Linked DNA regions of Homo sapiens: regions 1, 2 and 4 are each linked to region 3. Evidence: fine-mapped expression QTL. A gene starts in region 3. Each other region holds a variant in brackets. All regions are shown on one strand. Distances are from middle to middle. Region 1 has its middle 18 kb from the start of MYCL. Region 2 has its middle 5.9 kb from the start of MYCL. Region 3 holds the start of MFSD2A (MFSD2 lysolipid transporter A, lysophospholipid). Region 4 holds the start of HPCAL4 (hippocalcin like 4).

What was found.
Region 1: its variant is fine-mapped to the expression of MFSD2A in whole blood (INTERVAL, PIP 0.94).
Region 2: its variant is fine-mapped to the expression of MFSD2A in whole blood (TOPMed, PIP above 0.99).
Region 4: its variant is fine-mapped to the expression of MFSD2A in nucleus accumbens (GTEx, PIP 0.99).

What each region holds. Positions count from the first base shown.
Region 1 is chr1:39,917,444-39,922,999 of GRCh38, reverse strand. No RefSeq gene overlaps it. Among named protein-coding and RNA genes, the nearest start is that of MYCL, 18 kb to the right of the region's middle. The variant A/G (reference allele first, on the strand shown) is at 3,297.
Region 2 is chr1:39,905,052-39,910,607 of GRCh38, reverse strand. No RefSeq gene overlaps it. Among named protein-coding and RNA genes, the nearest start is that of MYCL, 5.9 kb to the right of the region's middle. The variant G/T (reference allele first, on the strand shown) is at 2,854.
Region 3 is chr1:39,952,897-39,958,452 of GRCh38, reverse strand. It overlaps MFSD2A (MFSD2 lysolipid transporter A, lysophospholipid), which reads right to left and starts at 3,308. Exons shown (of 14, transcript NM_032793.5): 1 at 3,068-3,308; 2 at 1,232-1,366. The coding sequence starts at 3,160. RefSeq lists a silencer at 3,357-3,486.
Region 4 is chr1:39,686,597-39,691,871 of GRCh38, reverse strand. HPCAL4 (hippocalcin like 4) reads left to right here and starts at 439. Exons shown (of 4, transcript NM_016257.4): 1 at 439-566. RefSeq lists an enhancer at 1-60 and silencers at 133-362, 583-662, 1,937-2,163. The variant C/T (reference allele first, on the strand shown) is at 2,646.

The DNA of each region.
Region 1 (5,556 bases), 35 kb after region 3:
GGCACAAGAATCGCTTGAACCTGGGCGGTAGAGGTTGCAGTGAAATGAAATCACGGCACTGCACTCCAGCCTGGGCGACAGAGTAAGACTCAGTCTCAAAAAAAAAAAAAAAAAAAAAAATCAGACCTCCACGAATAAGTTTACTGAGAGTCTGAAGGAACTCCCCAAACCTCCATGATTTAGCAGGAGTATGGTCCCTGCGATCATGGACTATGTTTTTGTGCACTAACTCCTGCCGCAGCTCGATAACTGATGGATGCACGAATGAGTGGATGCGTGAATGAATGAAAGCCAGCGCAGATCTAGTATCCTCTGCCCGGTTAATACCTGTCTGAAAGCCGCGGGCCCTGCCCCAGCAGCGGATGCCAAGAGCGCGAGCCAGAGGTCACAGAAGCTCAGCGGGGAGCGGGGCTCGCACAATGCAGGTGCCGGCTGCTCCCTCCCTTCCGCCGCTTTGAGGCTCTAGGACAACCTTGGAGCCGCTTCCTGCGCGCAGCCTGGGGCCTGCGACGTCCGGCTGCCGACCCCCACCTCTGCCTCCTCCAAGCCACAGGCCTAGGTTGTCGGGGAGGATGGGTGGGGGTAGAAGCGCCCCTTGCTAGGCTTGGAACATCTGGCCGAGTCCTGGGCGGAGGGCTGCTGTCCAGTCCCTGGTCCACTTCCCGGCTGTGTGACTGGACACATCTGCCAACTGTGCTGTAATGGATTTGTTGCCTCCTAGTCCCGCCCCTCCTTCTGACACACAGGGTGTCAGAGTAGACCCGCACTCAGAACCGATTTGAATTCGGCACTCCCCATCCCAAGTATGAAAACAATAATAGCTTTGACATCATGGAACACCTTCTAGGTGATGGAAACGCCCAGCTGAGAGTTTTGCATGGATGATCCTATTTAATCTTCACCACGGTCAGGCATGATAAGCAGGAATCTCCCTATTTGACAGGTTAGGAGACAAGACCAGTTTGGTTTAGGTGCCTTTCTCAGGTCACACAGTTAGGGGTGGCGCAGCCTAGATGTGCCTAACTCCAGTGTCTTGCTTGTTCCTGGGTTTTCTGTGTGGCGGCTCCAATACTTAGGCCCAGGGACTTGAGCCAGGCCTGAGGATATGAACCGAGGTGGGGGCTTCCCTGCCCTTCATAAAGCTTCCTTTCTGATGGGGGATGATCGTTCTAGCACTGGATGATCACCAACCTTACTTCGTTGCTAGGCAGACAGAAAGGGATGCCTGAGCACTTAAGTATAGACCAATTTCCGGTGGATGGAACAGTTGCGCAAAGCTGGAGTCAGGGTGGGAACTTCCAGGTCACGTTCCTGCAACAACACAACAATGCTCCCATGATGCCCCCAACAACTTCTACCAGCTGAAATGGGGTGCTCCCTCCACAGGGATATCTCTGAGTGTGTCTGTGTCAGCAAGACCTCTGGAAAATTCCATGTCCTCCCCATAACACCTGATGTGGGGATGCCTAAGCAGCGATAGCCTGGCAAATGTTTAACAAACTGGAAGGTGGGCGGCAGGAGGTGGGGAACCCTGATTTGTAGCATTTGTGGGTTTCCATGAAGTAAATAATCTGCCATGACCAACTGCAAGCTACCAAAGTTGAAGTTGGGCCGGGCACAGTGGCTCACGCCCGTAATCCAAGCACTTTGGGAGGCTGAGGCGGGTGGATCACTTGAGCTCAGGAGTCTGAGACCAGCCTGGCCAACATGGTGAAACCTCGTCTCTACTAAAAAAATACAAAATTAGCCAGGTGTGGCAGCAGGCACCTGTAATCCCAGCTACTTGGGAGGCTGAGGCAGGAGAATCACTTGAACCCAGGAAGCACAGGTTGCAGTGAGCCAAGATCGCGCCATTGCACTCCAGCCTGGGCAACAAGAATGAAACTCCATCTCAAAACAAAACAAAACAAAACAAAACAAAACAAAAAATCAAAGTTGAAGTTGGACAGTAGCAAACCACTACATAGTACTTTCACCATAACTGATATGATAGGCAGATAATAGTAAAACATAATAAAATAATTAGGGATTGATTTTTATTTTATTTATTTATTTTTGAGACAAGGGCTCATTCCATCACTAGGCTGGAGCGCAGTGGCGCAATCACAGCTCACCGCAGCCTCGATCTCTCAAGCTAAAGTGATCCTTCCACCTCAGCTTCCCAAGTAGCTGGGACTACAGGCGCTCACCACTATGCCCAGCTGATTTTTGTATTTTTTGTAGAGATGGGGTTTCACCCTGTTGCCCAGGTGGGTCTCAAACTCCTGGGCTCAAGTCATCTGCCCACCTTGACCTCCCAAAGTGCTGAGATTATATGTGTGAGCCACCATGCCCAGCCAATATAGTTTATTTAAATGTAAATTTATATAGTTTAATTTTTACTTTATTAATTTTGTGCCCTAATTCCATGACACATTATAATTTTTATTTTTTAATTTTAATTTTATTTTTTATTTATTTTTTTTTGAGACGGAGTCTTGCTCTGTTGCCCAGGCTGGAGTGCAGTGGCATGATCTCAGCTCACTGCAACCTCCGCCTCCCAGGTTCACACCATTCTCCTGCCTCAGCCTCCCGAGTAGCTGGGACTACAGGCGCCTGCCACCACACTCGGCTAACTTTTTACATTTTTAGTAGAGATGGGGTTTCACCGCGTAAGCCAGGATGGTCTCAATCTCCCGACCTCGTGATCCGCCCGCCTTGGCCTCCCAAAGTGCTGGGATTACAGGCGTGAGCCACCATGCCTGGCCTTTTTTTTTTTTTTTCTCTCTCTTTTTTAAATTTGAGACATGGTCTTGCTCTGTCTCCCAGGCTAGAGTGCAGTGGTGCAATCATAGCTCACTGCAGCGTGGACCTTTCAGACTCAAGTGATGCTCCCATCTCAGCCTTCTGAGTAGCCGGGACTAGAGGTGCACACCACCATGCCTGGCTAATTTTTTGATTTTTTTGTAGAGACAAGGGTCTCCCTATGTTGCTTAGGATGGTCTCGCACTGGGCTTAAGCGATTCTCCCACCTGGGCGTCCCAAATTGCTGGGATTACAGGTGTGAGCCACCGTGCCCAGCTATAATTTAATATTTAATGACCAAGTTTACCAACCAGCTCTCAAGATTCCTGAAAATGCAAGAGTCAATTCTCACTAAGCTGATACAAGCCAGTTCCAGCACAGCACTGAACCTAGATCACTGGGTCCACTGGCTCCTGGGGCCGTCAGCTCCTTCTGTTTCCTCCAGCCTCAGGGCTCCCACGCATCTAGCCTGGGTTTCCCTCCCCATCTCTCTAGCCTGGGTTTCCCTCCCC[A/G]TCTCTCTAGACTGGGTTTCCCTCTAGTGGACAGAATTGTTATTTCCAGGTGATTATCTTGCTCCACCTGTGCCCAGAGCTCAGCACCTTAAGAAGGGTGCGGAGGAAGTTTGTCATCAATCCTCCTTAAGACCTTAAGGGGCTGCTCTGCCTATGGAATAGCCATTCTTTTATTTCTTTGCCTTCTTGATAAACTTGCTTTCACTTCAAAAAAAAAAAAAAAGTACCTTAAAAAGGGTACATAACAGTCTCACAATTGCCCTCAAGCACAAGTCACTTAGTATTATGTCCCCGTGAGGGGGAGTGCCAGGAGGGCCTCCTTGGGCTTTAGTCATTATCACAATCTCCAGAGCTGCTCAGAAATCCCATCTCATCCTCTGTGTGGCAGCTCAGGCTGGCTATATTAGCCCTTCAGGTTTGGGGAATACCCCGCCTGACCCTGACCCCTGCAATTAATTAGCTCTATCTCTGAGAAGGTAAACTGGAAGATTCAGTTTGTGTTAGGAATCAAGCTCTCACACAATTCATAGCCCACTGGGGAAACACTGATGGAGGCCATTCATGTGTTGGGCAAAGATGAAACCATGGAGTCTGTTAGATGCAGATCTGGGGCTCAGGATGCTGCATCCTGCATTACACCAGGACTCTTTTCTCCCAGAAGTGATCTTTCCAAAGCACAGATATATCTGTCACTCTTCCGTTCACAAGCCTCCTATGATTCTCCAATGCTTTCAGCTTTAGTACAAGTTCCTTAGCCAGGCTTTGAGGGCCTTGATTGGGACCTTACCCAGATTGTTTACCTTAAATGTCCAGGCCAGGTGCGGCAGCTCACAACTGTAATTCCAGCACTTTGGGAGGCCGAGGTGGGCAGATCACGAGGTCAGGCGATCAAGACCATCCTGGCCAACATGGTGAAACCCCATCTCTACTAAAAATATAAAAAGTAGCTGGGCATGGTTGCATATGCCTGTAGTCCCAGGTACTTGGGAGGCTGAGGCAGGAGAATCCCTTGAACCTGGGAGGCGGAGGTTGCAGTGAGCCAAGATCGCACCACTGCATTCCAGCCTGGCAACAGAGCGAGACTCTGTCTCAAAATTAAAAAAACAAAAAGAAGAAGAGAAGAAAACTGACATTTTTGGAATTCTCCTCTGTGCCAGGCACTGTGCTAAAACTTTGCAGTTTAATTTAATTCTCCAATAATGCTGCTAGATAGGAAAAAACCTCTCTAGAGATGAGAAAACTAAGGGTCAGTACAAGCCTGCTCACCGTAACACTGCTTCAGAGTAGTTTTTCCTTCATCCTACTTCTGTTTATTTTTTTTTTTTTATTTTTTTGAGATGGAGTTTTGTTCTTCTCACCCAGGCTGGAGTGCAATGGCGTGATCTCGGCTCACTGCAACCTTTGCCTCCCAGATTCAAGCAATTCTCCTGCCTCAGCCTCCCGAGTAGCTGGGACTACAGGTGCCCGCCACCACACCCGGCTAATTTTTGTATTTTTAGTAGAGACGGGTTTCATCATGTTGGCCAGGCTGGTCTTGGAACTCCTGACCTCAGGTAATCTGCCTGTCTCAACCTCCCAAAGTGCTGGGATTACAGGCGGGAGCCACCACTCCTGGCCTGTTCTTGAAAGCTGCTGTTTTCTCTCTAAGCCTGGTCCCTTCCCCAGGTTGGCTGCAGAGGGAGACACAAGATCTCCTGAACCCCTTTTTCACTGAACTTAAAGCAAGGCCACATTCCTTAGGGTTCTAAGGAAAGCACAGCTTTGCAGTGAAACCCAAGCCAAGGTAACAGAGCCACAGATATAGGATAAGAAACCAGATTTTACACCTGGTTAATTCTTCTGGGGCCAGCTCCAGAGCCCTTCCTCTTCCTAACTCTCCCCTCCCTAAATCTTTTTTCTCCTCCTCTCCCCTCTTCACCTCCTTACTTCCACTAAAATCCTAGACATCTTATGGATCAGATCAAATTTCCCTCCTCCAGAAAGCCCTCTCAGACAACCTGGATCAGGAATCTGCCTAATGAAAATAAGAATTGTTGGCCGGGCACAGTGGTTCACGCCTGTAATCCCAGCACTTTGGGAGGCCAAGGTGGGCGGATCACGAGGTCAGGAGATCGAGACCATTCTGGTCAACAAGGAGAAACCCCATCATTACTAAAAATACAAAAATTAGCTGGGCATGGCGGCTCATGCCTGTGATCCCAGCTACTTGGGAGGCTGAAGCAGGAGAATCGCTTGAACCTCGGAGGTGCAGATTGCAGTG
Region 2 (5,556 bases), 48 kb after region 3:
AGCCGAGATTGCACCATTGCACTACAGCCTGGGTGACAAGAGTGAAACTCTGTCCCAGAAAAGAAAAGAAGAGAAAAGAAAAGAAGAAAAAAGAAAAGAAAAGAAAAGAAAGGAAAAGAAAAGAAGAAAAGAAAAAAAAGAAAAAGAAAGATGTACTCATACTGACAGTTGAGGAGTCCCCTGCTAGGTACCTGCCTAAAACCCTTTAGTGAAGCTCAGTAATCAAATACCTCCCCACACACACATATAGAGCTTTCAATCAGCTTTTAATGCCTCACTGTTTTGTTTTGTTTTCTTTAACATGTGGTCTCACTATATTGCCCAGGCTGATCTTGAACTCCTGGGCCCAAGCAATCCTCCTGCCTCAGTCTCCCAAGGGATTACATATGCACACCACCATGCCTGGCTCTACTCTGTAATATACATAAACATCTATACCAAGGATTATCGGATGTTTGAGAAAGCCTCTAATGAAACACACAGAGCAAAGTAAGCAAGGGAGAAGTCAGAGAAAACAGGGAGCAGGAAAGACTTTCAAAATTTATAATAAGTATGAAAACTATTATTAATAGCCTCAGAGGAAAATGGGAAAAAGATTGTGTCCATGGAAAAAGAACAGGAAGCTCCAAAAAGGGAACATTTAGGGAACAACAAGAAAAAGAGGTCTTAAAAATTAAAAAATATCAGTCAAAAAATGTTTAAGTTGAGAAAAGGATTGGAAGTTGAGAACATGAATAAAAGGATTGGACGTTTGGCTGGGTGTGGTGGCTCACACTAATAATCCACCTATAATCCCAGCACTTTGGGAGGCTGAGGCAGGTGGATTGCTTAGCTCAGGAGTTTGAGACCAGCCTAGCAAATATAGGGAAACCCTATCTCTATTTTTATTTTAGAAAAAAAAAAGGATTAGAAGTTTGACTCCTAGGAAGTTGAACAGAACACATAAAGGTAGAGATGAGAGAAAAGAAAAGACAAGACAGGAGTTTCAGAGAGGGAGAAGGGAAAAAAAATGGAGGGGAGGAATTTCCCAAAGGAATAATTACAGAGTGAATTGGTTTCCATATTAAAAGATTTAGGGCAGCTGGGTGTGGTGGCGCCTGCCTGTAATCCCAGCACTTTGGGAGGTCAAGGCAGGCAGATCACTTGAAGTCAGGAGTTCAAGACCAGCCTGCCCAATATGGGGACACTCCATCGCTACTAAAAATAACAAAATTAGCCAGGCATGATGATGGGCACCTGTAATCCCAGGTACTTGGGAGGCTGAGGTGGGACAACTGCTTGAACCCAGGAGGTAGAGGTTGCAGTGAGCTGAGATTGTGCCACTGCACTCCAGCCTGGGTGACAGAGCAAGACTCCGTCTCAATTTAAAAAAAATAAATAGCAGGGCATAGTGGATCACGCCTGTAATCCCAACACTTTGGGAGGCTGAGGCAGGCAGATCACGAGGTCAGAAGATCGAGACCATCCTGGCTAACATGGTGAAACCCCGTCTCTACTAAAAATACAAAAAGTTAGCCGGGCGTGGTGATGGGCACCTGTAGTCCCAGCTACTCGGAAGGCTGAGGCAGGAGAATGGCGTGAACCCAGGTGGCAGAGCTTGCAGTGAGCCAAGATTGCGCCACTGCACTCCAGCCTGGGAGACGAGCGAGACTCCATCTAAAAAAAATAAAAATAAAATAAATAAATAAATAAATAAAAAGGCTTAGCGCAAAGAATTCAAAAAGATGCTGCAATGCAATTCTGACACTATCTAGAGTTAGGCCAAACTTCACAAGTTAATGGCACAGTCTCCACAAGACTGCCTTCACTTCAGAAACCAGCTATTAATAGAAGCTCAGGGTTTCCCAGGCCACCCACACTTCTGACCAAATGACTACAAATCTGGGGGTTCCCACTACCTACTTAGGTTCAATAATTCCACAGAACACCAAACTCAGGAAAGCACTAAACTTATAGTTACAGTTTTATTATAGCAAAGGCAATACAAATCAGGACCAGGCAAAAGAAGAGACACAAAAGGCAAGGTCTTGGAGGATCCCAAACTTAAAGCTTCCAGTGTCCTTTTCCCGTGAAGTCAGGATGCATCATCCTCTGGCACATTGATGTGTAACAATACACACAGACTATTATTAACCAGAAAAGCTCACCAGAGCTTCAGTGTCCAGAGTTTTTATTGAGGGTTCATTATGTAGGCACGATTAACTGAATCATTGTCCAGATTATTTAACTAAATCTCCAGCCCTCTTCCCCTGCCCAGAGGTCAGATTGATTATCAAGTGGCTCAAAAGCCCAGCACTCTAATCACATGGTTTGTCTTTCTGGCATGGACAGCCCCTATCATGAGTCATCTTAAACTATCTAGGGGTCCCCCATGGGCCACCTTATTAGCATAAGCTATCAGTGCCTGCCATAAATAACAGACACACCTATTACCTGGGAAATTCCAAGGATTTAGAGGTTACCTCCAAGGAACTGGGGAGAAAGGCCAATAAATTCTTTATTCCAACAGACCCACACCAAGGCACATCATTGAAAACATTTAAAATGCCAGGGACAAAGAATATATCCTAAAAGCTACCAGAGAAACAGGTCACATACAAAGGTTTGTAGATAAAATGACATCAGTCTTCTCAATAGCAATACTGGCTGCTAAGAAACAGAAAAAAAGTACTTTTAGAATTCTCAGGGGAAATTATTTTCTAATCTAATATTCTCTAGCCAGCCAAACCATCAACCAAAGGGTATACCAAAGAAAATTTCAGAAACACAAAGTCTCAAAACTTTTACTTCCCAAGTACCTTTTCTCAAAGCAGCTGCTGGAGGATATGCTCCACCAAAGTGAGGAAGTAAAAC[G/T]AGAAAGAGGAAGAAACAAGCTCCAGAAAACAGGGGATGCGACACAGGAGAGAAGCAGAGGGAATTTCCAAGATGATGGTAAAGGGAAGTCACAGGATGACAATTGTGAAGCAGGCCAAGAGATCAATAAGTTCAGACTAGAACAGGAAGACAAAGGACTCCAACCAAGATGATTCCTAGAAAAAAAATGTAACTGATAGACTGATTACCTAGTGTGTTTGACCATATGGAGTAATCTTTGTAGCTCTAGTGGGAATGTGTAGGGTTAAATTCATAATAGATATGTAGAAATCTAAGCAAAAGAAAAACTGAGGCAATTTAACACTGAAAAAAAATATTGTATAAGAAAGGAATTATAAACTGGGTACAGTGGCTTAGGCCAGCATTTGGGGAGGCCCAGGCAGGAGGATCACTGAGCCCAGGAGTTCAAGACCAGCCTGGGCAACATAGTCAGACCCTGTATCTACAAAAAAAAAAAGAAAAGAAAAGAAAAAAAAATTTTTAATTAGCCAGGTGTGGTGGTGTGCACCTGCAGTCCTAGCTACTAGGGAGGCTGAGGTAAGAGGATCGCTTGAGCCCAGGAGGCTGAGACTACAGTGAGCCAAAATGGTGCCACTGCACTCAAGCCTGGGCAACAGAGTGAGACCTTGTCTTGAAAAAAGAAAAAAAAAGAAAGTAAAGGAAATTTAGGCTGGCTCTGGAAGCTCTACCTATGAGTATGAGTTAGGCTTGCTCTGCAAGGGCAATTTAAAAAAAGAAAAAGAAAAGAAAAAGAAAAAGGGCCGGGCATGGTGGCTCACGCCTGTAATCCCAGAACTTTGGGAGGCTGAGGTGGGTGGATCACCTGAAGTCAGGAGTTTGAGACCAGCCTGGCCAACATAGTGAAACCCCATCTCTACTAAAAATACAAAAATTAGCCAGGCATGGTGGCGCACACCTGTAGTCTCAGCTACTCAGGAGGCTGAGGCAGAAGAATTGCTTGAACTCAGGAGGTAGAGGTTGCAGTAAGCAGAGATCATGCCATTGCACTCTAGCCTGGGCAACAGAGCAAGACTCCATCTCAAAAAAATAAAGAAAAAGAAAGAAATTTAAAAATCAGGAAAAAGTAGATCTCTGTATTGGTCAAAATATGGAAAGAAATATGAGGGACAGTCCTGGCATGGTGGCTGAGGCAGCCAGATCGCAAGGTCAGGAGTTTGAGACCTGCCTGACCAACATGGTGAAACCCTGTCTCTACTAAAAATATAAAAATTAGCCGGGCATGGTGGCACACACCACACACACACACTCAGTGATGTGAGCTGAGATCACATCACTGCATTCCATCCGGGGCGACAGAGTGAGACTTTGTTTCAAAAAACAAAAACAAAAACAAAAAACAAAAAGCTAAAACAATAGCTGCCTTTGGGGAGTGGGAATCAGTTGATGGCAAGACAGAAGATGGCCTTTTTTTTTTAACTTTGCCATATGCCTAATTGATTTTTTAAAAAATTATTACATGTATTTTGATTAAAAACATATTTTAGAAAAAATAAAGGAAATAAAATATTGCAGAAAAATGGAAGGTCCCTGGGGTAGCATTTGTTACCTTGGTAAATTCATCAGCATCCTGGGTCCAGCTTAGAAACCAGAGTTGTTAGCCCTAAAAGCAGCAGCATCTCTACAGAACAGACACACATTAACCAGGTTCATGAGACTGATATTGCAAATCAGATGCCAATTCATTAATTTATAAGAGGAAGCAGGGCTTTGAAGCAGACTGGATCTTCCTGTTCAATGATGAGTGCATTCTCTCCCTGTGGACTGATCTACATAGGAAACAGAATGGTTTTTAGAGGGTTGCTTGGTGATCCAGAGCATGAGTGAGGTAGGGGGTGAATTGAGTGGCTCCAAAGAATGGTACTTCCATCTCCCTTTTTCCTGGACCAGCATCTTTGTCCCCAGAGAAGGGACACTGCTGGTGATTGTCTTGGCAACTCTCCCTGATCTCTGGCTTCCTTGGCTGCCCAGACCCTCCTAACTGGCACCCTCTTTCTTTAGCTGCATTAATACTTTTAACCAGGTTGTAGTCTAGACTGGGCCTGAGAGTTCTTCTGTCTCTATAAGGTATAGTTTGGCTCTGCGTCTGCAACCAAATCTCATCTCGAATTGTAATCCCCATGTGTCCAGAGAGAAACCTGGTAGGAGGTGATGGATCATGGGGGCAGTTTCCCCCATACTGTTCTTGTGATAGTGAGTGAATTCTCACGAGACTCGATGGTTTTATAAATGGCAGTTTTTCCTGCACTCACACCCTTTCCTGCTGCTTTGTGAAGAAGATGCTTGCTTCTCCTTCCCCTTCTGCCATAATTGTAAGTTTCCTGAGGCCTCCCAAGCCATGCGGAACTATGAGTCAATTAAACCTCTTTTGTTTATAAATTACTCAATCTCAGGTGTTTCTTTACAGCAGTGTCAAAACAAACTAATACAATTGGCATATCTCTACTTTAAAGCATTAGAGGTGAGATGTGGTGGCTCACATATGTAATCCCCGCACTTTGAGAGGCCAAGGTGAGAGGATCACTTGGGCCCAGGAGTTTGAGACCAGCCTGGGCAGCATAGGGAGACCCCATCTCTACAAAAAATTAGCCAAGTGTGGTGGTGCATGCCTCCTATGGTCCCAGCTACTCAGGAGGCTGACGTAGCAGGATCCCTGGAGCCCAG
Region 3 (5,556 bases):
CTGCCCTTGAAAACATTCCCATCAATTCAAATGAATCCACAAACATTTCCTTCCCTCCCTCTCTCAGCCCTGAGCTCCTGACCACCTGATATCAGAATGAGCATTCACGGGGTGAACACAGTGTGCTTCAGTGTTCCCATCTGTATAATGGGAGTTATGAGCTCTACCTTACAGGTTCAAGCTCTATCTTGGATGTGGAAAAAGGAGCCTATAGATGCTTTTTAAAAAGGGACTTGTCACTACCCACTCAAGTTATCCCCCTCCCCGCCCCAAAACCCCCCAGGCCCTAAATACAGACTCTCCAGACTCCTCCTTATCCATCAAAGCCCTGCTATTGCTATTTCTCTGGGGAGTGGGTATTCTTCCCCATACCATAGTCTCCCTAGTCTAACCCCCCAACCCCAGCTCTAACACCCACTACAACAGGTTTACACTTTGACTGCAGGTTCCTCATATTTACACCCCACCCAAGGCCCAGCCCATGGGAGTTACTCAAAAATTAGCTGCTGAAGTTTTTTGTTCCTTCTGGAGTTCAGTGTTCCCCCTCTGTAAATGGATACAACTAAGATGCGATGCTTGCCAAGTTAGATGCTACACAGAGAAGACAGCTGGTGCAGGAGCCCCGGTAGTCATGGCTATTCTGCCTCCCACTCTCCCATCCAGACAGGGTGAATTCTCAGGATGCCAGGCTTCTGGCCAAGGCTTCTCAATGCACAGAATAGTCCTGTTTCACCCTAAGTACCCCTCCCAGTCAAAGACCCTGTGTACTGGGGCATTCTAACTTAGCCTGGCACCTAAGTGCCCTTCTGCTCCTCAGGTAAAGGTGGGATGCATCTCATCCACAAGCCTGGCAACAGCCACCAACCCCTGAGTCAAGCCAGCTGACTATCTCCCAGCCAGGAACACAGTGTGCCAGTCTCTTCTAAGAACAGCATCCCCAGCAGGCCCCATTCTCCCTCATTCTACCGCCTACCCCTTCAGGCTCTGTTGCTCATGCCAGGCAAGGAGGAGTTGCCAGACCTTTCCAGCAAAGACTCCTGGAGTGGAGACACTCCTTTACTGGATACTTTCCAGGGTCTTCTCATTTCTTGCTCACTGACTCAGAGGCAGCAAAGTAGTGATTTGGGGTCCCATTTCACAGATGGGGAAAACTGAGCGAACTGACCCAGGGGTGCATAGTCTTTCCCACCTCAGGATGCTGAAGGAGCCCTCGAAGGCTTAGACCACTCACCTGAGCCACATCCAATAGGTAGATCTGAAGGAAGAAACCCAGGGCACAGCCCGTCACCTGGTAGGGGGCTCCCCCAAGTGCATAGCAAAGCTTGTTGCAAACAGACAACTGTTGTTTCTTCTTTTTCGGTTCTTTCTGGGAAGAGGAGGAAAAGATGAAAGGCCCAAGGTTCTGGCCTCCATCCAAGAAGGTTCCACAGGAAGGACCATCCCTCTGGCCAGCTCTACCAGAACAAACAACTCTGCTTTGACCTGTTCCTATCCAGGAGATCCCACCTTTTTTTTTTTTTTTTTTTTTTTTTTTTTTGAGACAGAGTCTTGCTCTGTTGCCCAGGCTGGAGTGCAGTGGTGCCATCTCGGCTCACTGCAAGCTCCGCCTCCTGGGTTCACGCCATTCTCCTGCCTCAGCCTCCCAAGTAGCTGGGACTACAGGCACCCACTACCACACCCAGCTAATTTTTTGTATTTTAAGTAGAGACGGGGTTTCACCATGTTAGCCAGCATGGTCTCGATCTCCGAGATCCCACTTTATACAAAAGAAAGGTGTTCTCCATTCTTAGGAACATGGAAAAGGGGAATCCATACTTGTGTGAAAGTAGCCCCTAAGCCACCTCCCTCCTGGAGATTCTAAGGAAACTTATCAGCCCACCATCCCTAAAGAACTCCTCCCAAGGCCTCAGGCACTGCTCCTTTCCAGGTTTCAGGGGGAGCATGCTCCAGCAGCCGACCTGTCCCCACCCGGCACCAGCTGCCACAACCTGAAAATCCGCTTGCTGCCAAGAGCTGCCTGAGCCCAGCCCAGGCTCCCACCCTGCCTCAGAGACAGGATCCACCTGCCTACTCCTGGTGAGAGCTCTAGAGAGCTACGGGGGCCCGGCCCAGCTGGCTGCAGGCGCAGCTGTTCCACCTATCCCAGAGCATCCCTGACCACTATAGGCAGCCAGAGCTTCAGGCGGACCCAGGAACTGTCCTACTCTCCAGCTTCCCGACCCATCGCCCTCCACCCCTGAGCTCCTAGAGGACCTTGGAGACGGGAGGAAAGGCCTCCAGGTTCAGGCCTGATCCCTCTCCGGGTGGGGCACTAGGGAGGTTGGGTTGCCCAGGGAAAGTAGATATTACTCATACATAGTAACAGCATAATTGCTCACCCAGCTCCTTCCAAAGATCAGTTAATAAAATTAAAAGGAAAAGGCAGTCACCTCCCACGAAGGTATCTATTGCCTGAGATCCTTTCCTAGGGGGCCGCCTCATTTTATTTGGTCCTTCAATAAGTCCCCAGGGCTGGGGATGTGGTCGATGGTCTCGATGCGCAAAGCACCGTTCCCGCGCGAACATCCACATTCAGACAAATGCCTGAGGGACGCGGCTCCTTTAAGAGCAGAGCTCTTGTTCTTATGAATGAACTTGAGCGGCCCTAACAGCAGAGTTGAGGCGCAAGAGTAGGTGGGTGGAGTGGGAGGTAGGGGATGAGAGATGGGGAACCAAGGGGAGTTTCCCAGATTTCTGGGGTCATCTCTGGGGTTTGGGGCGGCAAGCCCCAGCCGCTCAACACGGAAGAATGGAAACCGGCTAGGCAGAGCGGGGAATCACATGGGGCTGCCGGCAGAGCCTCTCCGCAGAGCGTGGAGTGCGGGTGAGCAAAGGGGGGCGAGGGCGCCCACAGCTTTTCTCCGTCACCCCCTGTCCCAGGGCACCCCCAGGTCCTCTCTGGCTCGTAGGCTTCCTGTCCCTGGCTATCCCAATGGTCCCCTGACCAGGCCGACCCCGGGACGCCCCTGATCCCCCATTTCCGCCTCCTCCCTCCCCTCGCCCTCCACGCGGGGTGCCGGGCCCTCACCTTCACCTGGGCCGGGCGTTCAGTGCTTTGGAGGATGCTGGTGGGTAGCAGCCCCGCCGCGGAGCCGCTCTCGGCGCCTTCTCCTTTGGCCATGACCCGCGGGCCACGCCGCTTGGGACCTGGTAGACGGGATGCTCCTCTGCCCCGCAGGCCGCTGCTCCTCCCAAGCTCGCTTCGTAGCAGCCTTAGCCACGGCCGCCGCGCGCTAGCCAAGCCGGCTGGCAGACGAGGAACGCACTCTGCTGCACGCCCCCTCCGCGCCTCTTATAGTTCTGCCCAGCCCTCTCGGTTGCGGCCAATCCCCGAGCCCCGCTGCCCCGCCTCCAGCCAATCCCGTCGCCCGCCTCCCTGCCCCCGCCTCGCCCGGCGGCTCTGTGCCACCGAGCCACGTTCTCCAAGCCCCGGAACCGGCATCTGCCTGCGCTGGCTCCTAGCAATCCGAGAAGCAGGCCGCGAGACCTCCCAGACACGCGCGAGGAAACCGAGGCCCCAGGCTGAAAGTGATCTGCCCGGGGTCCCCGATCTGCCCGAGGTCCCCGAGGTCCCCAAGGTCCGACTCTCCCCGAGTCGGGCCTACCACCCATGACTTCTGAGCCCCAGGCCTAGGAAAGGTAGGGGCTCTGAAGCCCACTTTAAAATCTGGAGTCAGGGCCTCTCTCCTTCTTCAAGCCTAGAGGACGTACGCTGACACTTTCCCTCCTGATGCCTCTCTCTCATCCCCGAAGACACACCATTCCCCCGTCCTGCCCTTGGCATCCGGGCAATGGGGAGAAAGATGAGGCAATCCAGTGGCTGCCCCTGCCAGAAGGGAGCTCCCAAGTCGTGGAGAGAAGCCGGGGCTACGCCCGCTAGTACACTATGACAACAGTGGCCTTTTTATGGATAGCTTCCTCCATGCTTAATATGATCTCTTTCGGCCCTCAAAAACCACCAAGTGAGGGTGGTACTATTATTATCCCCATTTTACAGCACAGGAAGGGGAAACTTGGAGAAGTGAAGCAACTGTTATGTAGCAGAGCCAGGCCTGAAAGGTTTTGTCCGATACCAAAGCAGTTGCTCTCAACAGCCCTGCTCTATCCCTCTTAGCATAAATTACAGACGGCAGAATGGGGTGTATGTGTCTCCCAACAAGAAGCCCTGGGAGATACATGGCTCCAGAGGCACTGAGGGTTGAAACAGGGAAAGTTTTGAAAAAGAGAATGCCCAGAAATGTGGTCCTCAAAAGAAGATGGGAGGGCATTAGTTTGGAACAGAAGGCAGGCACGGATGCCAGAAAAGAACAGTCTTTAGTTCCACCTCTGAGTCCCTTATGTCAATGTCACCCCGGTCTTTCCAGTTCTCTGATTAGTGAAGGGGCTGCTGGAACTCTCAAAGGCTACCCACCCGGTTCCTGTGCTCCTTAATGTCAGCCTCCTTCTTCCTTTCTTTAAATCTCTGATTGCAGGGAGGAGAGATAAGGTCTATCTGCCCCAGGATGGTCACACCATGCTCCCTCATACGCCAGCAGATCCCATCTGGGCACACAGCTCTTGGCCATTGCTGAGCAGAAGAGAGCCAAAGTGAGGCACTGAATACTGTGGAAAGGGAATGGCTGGCCCCATTACTCCAAGCTGTGTGACACTGTTCTGTCTCTTTTCCCCTCTCCAGGCTTGGTTAGCTAAGCTCCCTTGCAGCCCCCAAATCTTCTCTCCCACAGTCACACCATACCACAAGTGATCTGTATCCCCCGGTTGACAATGAGCTCCTCAGGTAGGAACCGCATCTTTTTCACTTCTGTGTCCCCACCAACTAGCTTAGGGCCTGAATTATTGTGTTCAGTGAATGAATGTTCAGTCTTCCCCTGCTAAGGTACAAGCACACAGAAACCCATTAGGAAAAGCCCTAAGTGTCTCCATTTACTAGCTGTGCGGCTGACTCTGAACAACTCAGTTAACCTCCCTGTGTAAAATGGTGATATTAATAGTAGCTACTGGCCAGGCACCCTGGCTCACGCCTGTAATCCCAGCACTTTGGGAGGCTGAGGTGGGTGGATCACGAAGTCAGGAGTTCCGGACCAGCCTGGCCAATATGGTGAAACCCTGTCTCAACTAAAAATACAAAAATAAGCCGGGTGTGGTGGGGCACACCTGTAGTCCCAGGTACTCAGGAGGCTGAGGCAGAAGAATCGCTTGAACCCAGGAGGCGGAGGTTGCAGTGAGCCGAGATCGTGCCACTGCACTCCAGCCTGGGTGACAGACAAAGACTCTTGTCTCAAAAAAAAAAAAAAATTAATAGTAGCTACCTAATAGATTTGTTTTGGGGATGAAACAAGAAAATGCACAGGAAGCATTTAGCACAAGTGCCTGGGAGCTGAAGCTGGGCTGGTCCCCCTCCTGGCCTGATTCCAGTCTGTCAGTGTAGCAACGCAAGATTCCAGATATGGCCTGACCAAGCCAGCACAATAGGCCTATTATTTTTTCCAGTCTGGATGCGACACATTGTTAATGCAG
Region 4 (5,275 bases), 270 kb after region 3:
CCCAATTTCGGGTGGGATATGGGTGTGGGGGGGGGTCTCATCTTGTGACTCATCCCCTCTTCCGCCCCCACCCATGCTGGGGCCCAGGAAAGGAAGCTTAGAGATTCGGCTGTGGTTCTCCCGTTTCCATAGCAACGGTGAGGTTGTTTTTGAGAATCCACTTTCATCGTCGACCCTTTCCACCCCAGACTTGTAAGCCGGGGGCTGAGCCTCAGGGCAGGGGTGCAGATGGGGGTGCAGCCCTCCCGCTTCCCGGCGACTCCGGGAAGGTCAGCGCGGGCAGGCGGGGCGCGCTCCTGCGGCCGGGCCTCGCCGGCCACCCGGTCCCCACCTGAAACCCCGCCTGCCACTCCGCTCCAGAGGAGCCAATAGCCGTGCAACCTGCCCGGGATGGGGCGGGGCTTATGCAAATAGTGTCGCCTTCGGGAGGCACATAGTGATACAAGAGCTGGAAGGCGGCTCCGGCGCAGACCTTGGAGAGCACAGCTGCCGGCCCGCGAGCCAGCCTCGGTTCCCGCGGCCCGCCGAGGCTCGGAGCCATCCAGCGACCCGGCGACCGGCCTCAGGTAATGCGAGTGGGACCGGGTCCTCAAGGCAACAAACCCACCGGGCGGAGGCCCTGGCCCCCTCCCCCTCCACTCTCCCTTCCCATCCTCATGTCCTGCCCTGATTCACCTCCCTGACCCGTGGTTCCGCCTTAGGCGGCAGCAACTGAAGAGCCCACCCCTGGGCAGGAGACCCCCCACCTCAGTCCAGGCCCATGGGTGCAGAGAAGGAGGCAGAGCCGCCTACTTATCCCCAGCTCAGGTGAGAACAACCATTGCTATGGCCCCCAACATACACGCGCGCAAACACACATACACACACAGATGCACACACACACATCTGGGGGTGTGGTGGCGCTGGTGCTAGCTGGAGGCGCTGGTCACCCTCCCTCCTGTTTGGATATGGGTTGTCTGCCCAGCACCATGGCAAACTCCCACCTCCACGGATAGCCCCTAGCCACTTCTCATCAGGGAGCCCCTGCCCCCAAAGACAGCCTCCCCCTCCACAGAGCGCTCCCTCCTTGTTGTCCCCAGACACTGTCCCCACATCCCACCCCTCAAGCTGACAGAGCCCACAGCATACCTGAGGGGGGGACAATCCCCCTTCCCCAGTTTTTCTCCTCACAGTCTCGACAGCCCTCCCCAGTGGCCCCCAGTGCTAGGCAGAGGCCCCATATTTGGCATCTCTCATCCTGGCGGGAGGATGAACCAAAGACACCACCCCCAGCAGACCACCCATACCGTCAGTCCAGTTGCTGCCAAGGCCCCAACCTCCATACCTCCTCCCTCCCCCCTCACAGCCAGGCACCAAATCCTCTCATTCTGCCTGTCAAATGTCTTTCTAATTTGTATGACTATTTGCTCCCTCTCTCCCACCTTCCTGCTGCTCCGTGGGGACCTTGCCAAGGTGCCATGTGGGCTGTATTGCTCTTGGCCCTAAAGTGAACTATACCTGGAGGGCAGATGAGCTGGGTTCAAATCTTGTACAGCCAAAGTTTGACTTTGGCCAAGTCACTCCCCTCTCTGATCCTTCATGAAAATGGGGAGAGGTATAACAGAGAGGGTAGACTGGGTGAGATGAACTTGAACAGCCTTCTGGCACTGAGACACTCTGGTTCTATGGCTGATTATGGAAAAACAGGATCCTGAACCAAGAGGACATTAAAGAGAGGAGACCTGAGGGGGGCGGGGTTGGTTTAGAACTCACTGAAGACACATTCCTTCTTAACCAGCCTAGGTACAGGCTACCTCCTCCCACACATTCTCCAGGCCCCTTCTATTAGGAGTCCCTCCTAGACCACCAGCCCATCCTGACATGGACAGCTCCAAATTGTAGGTGGCCAGCTGGGATTACTCTTTGTTTGTCATCCCCTGCCTCTCATTAAGAAGAAGAGGGAAAAGACCTGGTTGCTGCTGCTATTGCTGCTGCTTGGGGAAGAGCAAAGGGAGGAGAGGAAAGAGAGAAAAAATCTCCTGACCAGGGAGCTATTGTCACCATGGCAACCACCTCAGTACCAGCTCCTCTGAAGCTGGGTGAGGGTGTGGGATTATTGCCTCCTTCAGTCCCTCCCATTCAAAGCCTCAGCCACCTCTCCATTCAAAGCCCACAGCCCTTAGCCCTCTTGAAGAAACCTCTGGGCACACTGGGACAATGGTTTTGTGTATGGGACAGTCCCAGCTCCTTCATAGCTGGAGGACAGCCCTCAAGAGGTAAGCAGAGGAGCCTGCCCATGTTCAGCAGGGCCACAGCTCCAGCAGAGCATGTCCCCAGCTGGGTTCTGGCCTTCACTTTGCTGCTGATGGGCTATAGTTGACCTGGGGTGAACCCTTCCTTCCCCTAGGTCTGGGTTCCATTGTCTCTGAAGTGGGTGTGATAGCAGGAGAACACAGATAAACAAAACAGCCTGACATAGATCCAGGGAGGAAGAAGGGGGTTCTGCTCCTCTTACGTAATCCACCAAGAGACATTCATTGAACATCACTGTGTCCTAGGCATTGCCACTGCGTCTCCACAGAGCAGTTCTGTGCAGGCACAGAAGGCAGGGTGGGAACCAGGGTAGGGGAGCTATAAGAGAGAAAAAACCCCTGCTCTCATGGGTC[C/T]CAGACTCAGTGAGGACTAAGCACTCACTGGGAGAAGTGAGTGCATAGGGAAAAGCACTTTTATTTTCCCCATGGGAAAAATAAACTTTTCTCACGCTTCAACCTGCTCAAAAGTGGACTGGGGCATATTGGAGGGGATCAACTCCTTGCCATTGAGCAAAAAGGTCTGGAGGATTTTTTTTCTGACTCAGGCAGGGGTTTAATGCAAAGACCTGTCTCAAATCAGACTGCATCCTGGAATTCTACAGCACCAGGTGAGGGTCAGAGGGCTATGAAGTCTACACGCCTGTGGGGGACTGACTCATGCCCAAAGTGCTGAGCTTGGGCTGCTGACTCTCCACTGTCCAGACTGGAAAAGGCTGATCATAAGGAAGCAGGCTTCAACCAGGCCCTGAAGACTGATTATAGTCCAGGAGAGAAGAAAGGATATTAGGGGAGAGGAAAATAGCTTAGCAAAGAGGTGAGGCGTGTCTGGCTGTGAGAAGGCTGGCTTGAGAGGAGTATGCGGTGGTGAGTGAGCAATGAGAGCTGAGGCGAGATAGGTGGGCACTTTGAGACCAGATTCTAGAGGATTCTAGAGTTTCAGGGGGCCCATGGGCATGGCTACTTCTAGTCTATATTGTAACTTTCGGGGGGAAAAAGCCATTCCCTCCTAACAGAGGAATCAAAAGAAAGGCACTTCCTGCCAGGCAGGGAAGCCCCATGGGCATGAGCATAGCTTGATTTCAGCCCCCTCGGCTGTGTCCCTGGCTATGGACATAATGAAGGTACCAAGAGCATTTCAAAATAAGAGACAACAGGACTTGATGGCAAGTTAGACCTAGGGCAAAGGGAAGGGAAAAAATGAAGGTAACTAAGATTGTGTTCCCCACACCCCGGGGATGAGGGAGAGAAGGAAGGGGCAACAGAGACAGTCTGACCATCTCTGGTTGGGAGCGAGTCTGGCTGTAGACTTGCTGTCTCAGAGGTGCTGGTGGACACCCCTAGGGTGGCTATCTCCTGGGTGTCAGAGATTGTGGCCCCAGATGGTTCCACTGCGGCCAAAAGGGAGATCAGAGCTCTGATTTTCCCAGAGGGCAGATGTGGGTGGAGAAGGTCTGTGCTGAACAAGAGTAGCCATGATTTGGAGACGGTGGCCCAGGCAGGTAGCACGGATTCAGCCTGAGTGCTCATCTGGGCCCTCCCACTGACCTGCTGTGTAACCCTGAGCCAGTTTTCTCCTATCTCTCAATTTCCATTTTCACTGAAATAAGGGGATGATCTTAAAGGGCACGGCCAGTTTTGACCTTCTTTTCTTAATTTTTTATTTACTTATTTTTTTTTTGAGACAGGGTCTTGCTCTGTTGCCCAGGCTCGAGTGCAGTGGCTCAATCACGGCTCACTGCAGCCTCAACCTCCTGGGCTCAAGTGATCCTCCCACCTCAGCTTCTGAGCAGCTGGGACTACAGGCACATGCTACCATGTCTGGCTAATTTTTAAATTTTATGTAGAAACAGGGTTTCCTTATCTTGCCCAGGCTCAGCTTTGACCTTCTGATGATCTAGAGGGAATGAGGAGAAATAAAGGAGGAGGCATAGTCTGGGTCTGAGACCCAATAAAAGCAGGGAACAGGAAGGACCCTAGGAGACAGAGAATTGTGGAGAAGGCAGCACAGAGCAGGGAGGAGAAAAGGGGTATAAGGTGAGAGCCACACAGACACTGTGACACACACAGAGAGACGTGTGCACTCTGACAGATTTGCAGCCTCAGACATTGACATGCTCCCACACACAGACCCAGCCCCTCATGCTGACTCTCAGGCACATCCTACGGAAGACAGCTGGAGAGGCTGTGCCTCCCCCCATCAGACATCTCTGCCTGACTTCTCCAGCTTCCTTGACTATACCCTGAGCCTTGAGAGTCCTTTGGATTTGGGAGAGGGGTGAGGCCTGCCTCCTTTTGCCTATGGGTGTTCCAGAGGCATCCTTGCTCTGGCCTCAGTGTAGCCATTTTCCGCCCAGCCTCAGGTTCCTGAAGATGGCATGCTCCCCCTCCCTGGCTTTTCCTGAGGGCATACAATTCCTCATCCTCTGGGAGTGGGGAAGGATGTTGCTACCTGCACTGCTCCTTGGTCTTCCTTATGGCCCAGTGGAGGAATCTGAGGCCCAGAGAGGATCTGTAACTAGCCTGAGGTCAGCCCAGCAAAGGGGAGTGGGAAGGAATGGACCAACCTCAGATTTGCTATTTAGTGTTTTCCCAGTTGTAAGAATTAGAAGCCCACTGGCAGACATCGGGCTATGGGAGTGGAATTCCTTCTGCCAGCCCAAGGGCTTCCTTTTCCAGAGTATCTTGAGGACAGGCTACCTGGGGTGGGAGCCTGACCCTCTTCCAAAGAGACTCTAGGCAGGTCAGAGGCACCTCCCAAGCCATGTCCTGGGAAACCCAGACTCTGCAGGGACATTCCTCCCAGGGAGGTCAGAGAGGAGGGTCCACTCTGCCTTCAAGGTCTGGCCACACTTCCTGAGGAGGGCCTGTACCTCTTCAAACACTTCCCCTGGCACAGCCCACTTACGGGCTCACATTCCCACTGGGGAATAACTCTTGATCCTTCCCAAACCTGCTTCTCAGCAACAACACTTCTATCCACTGAG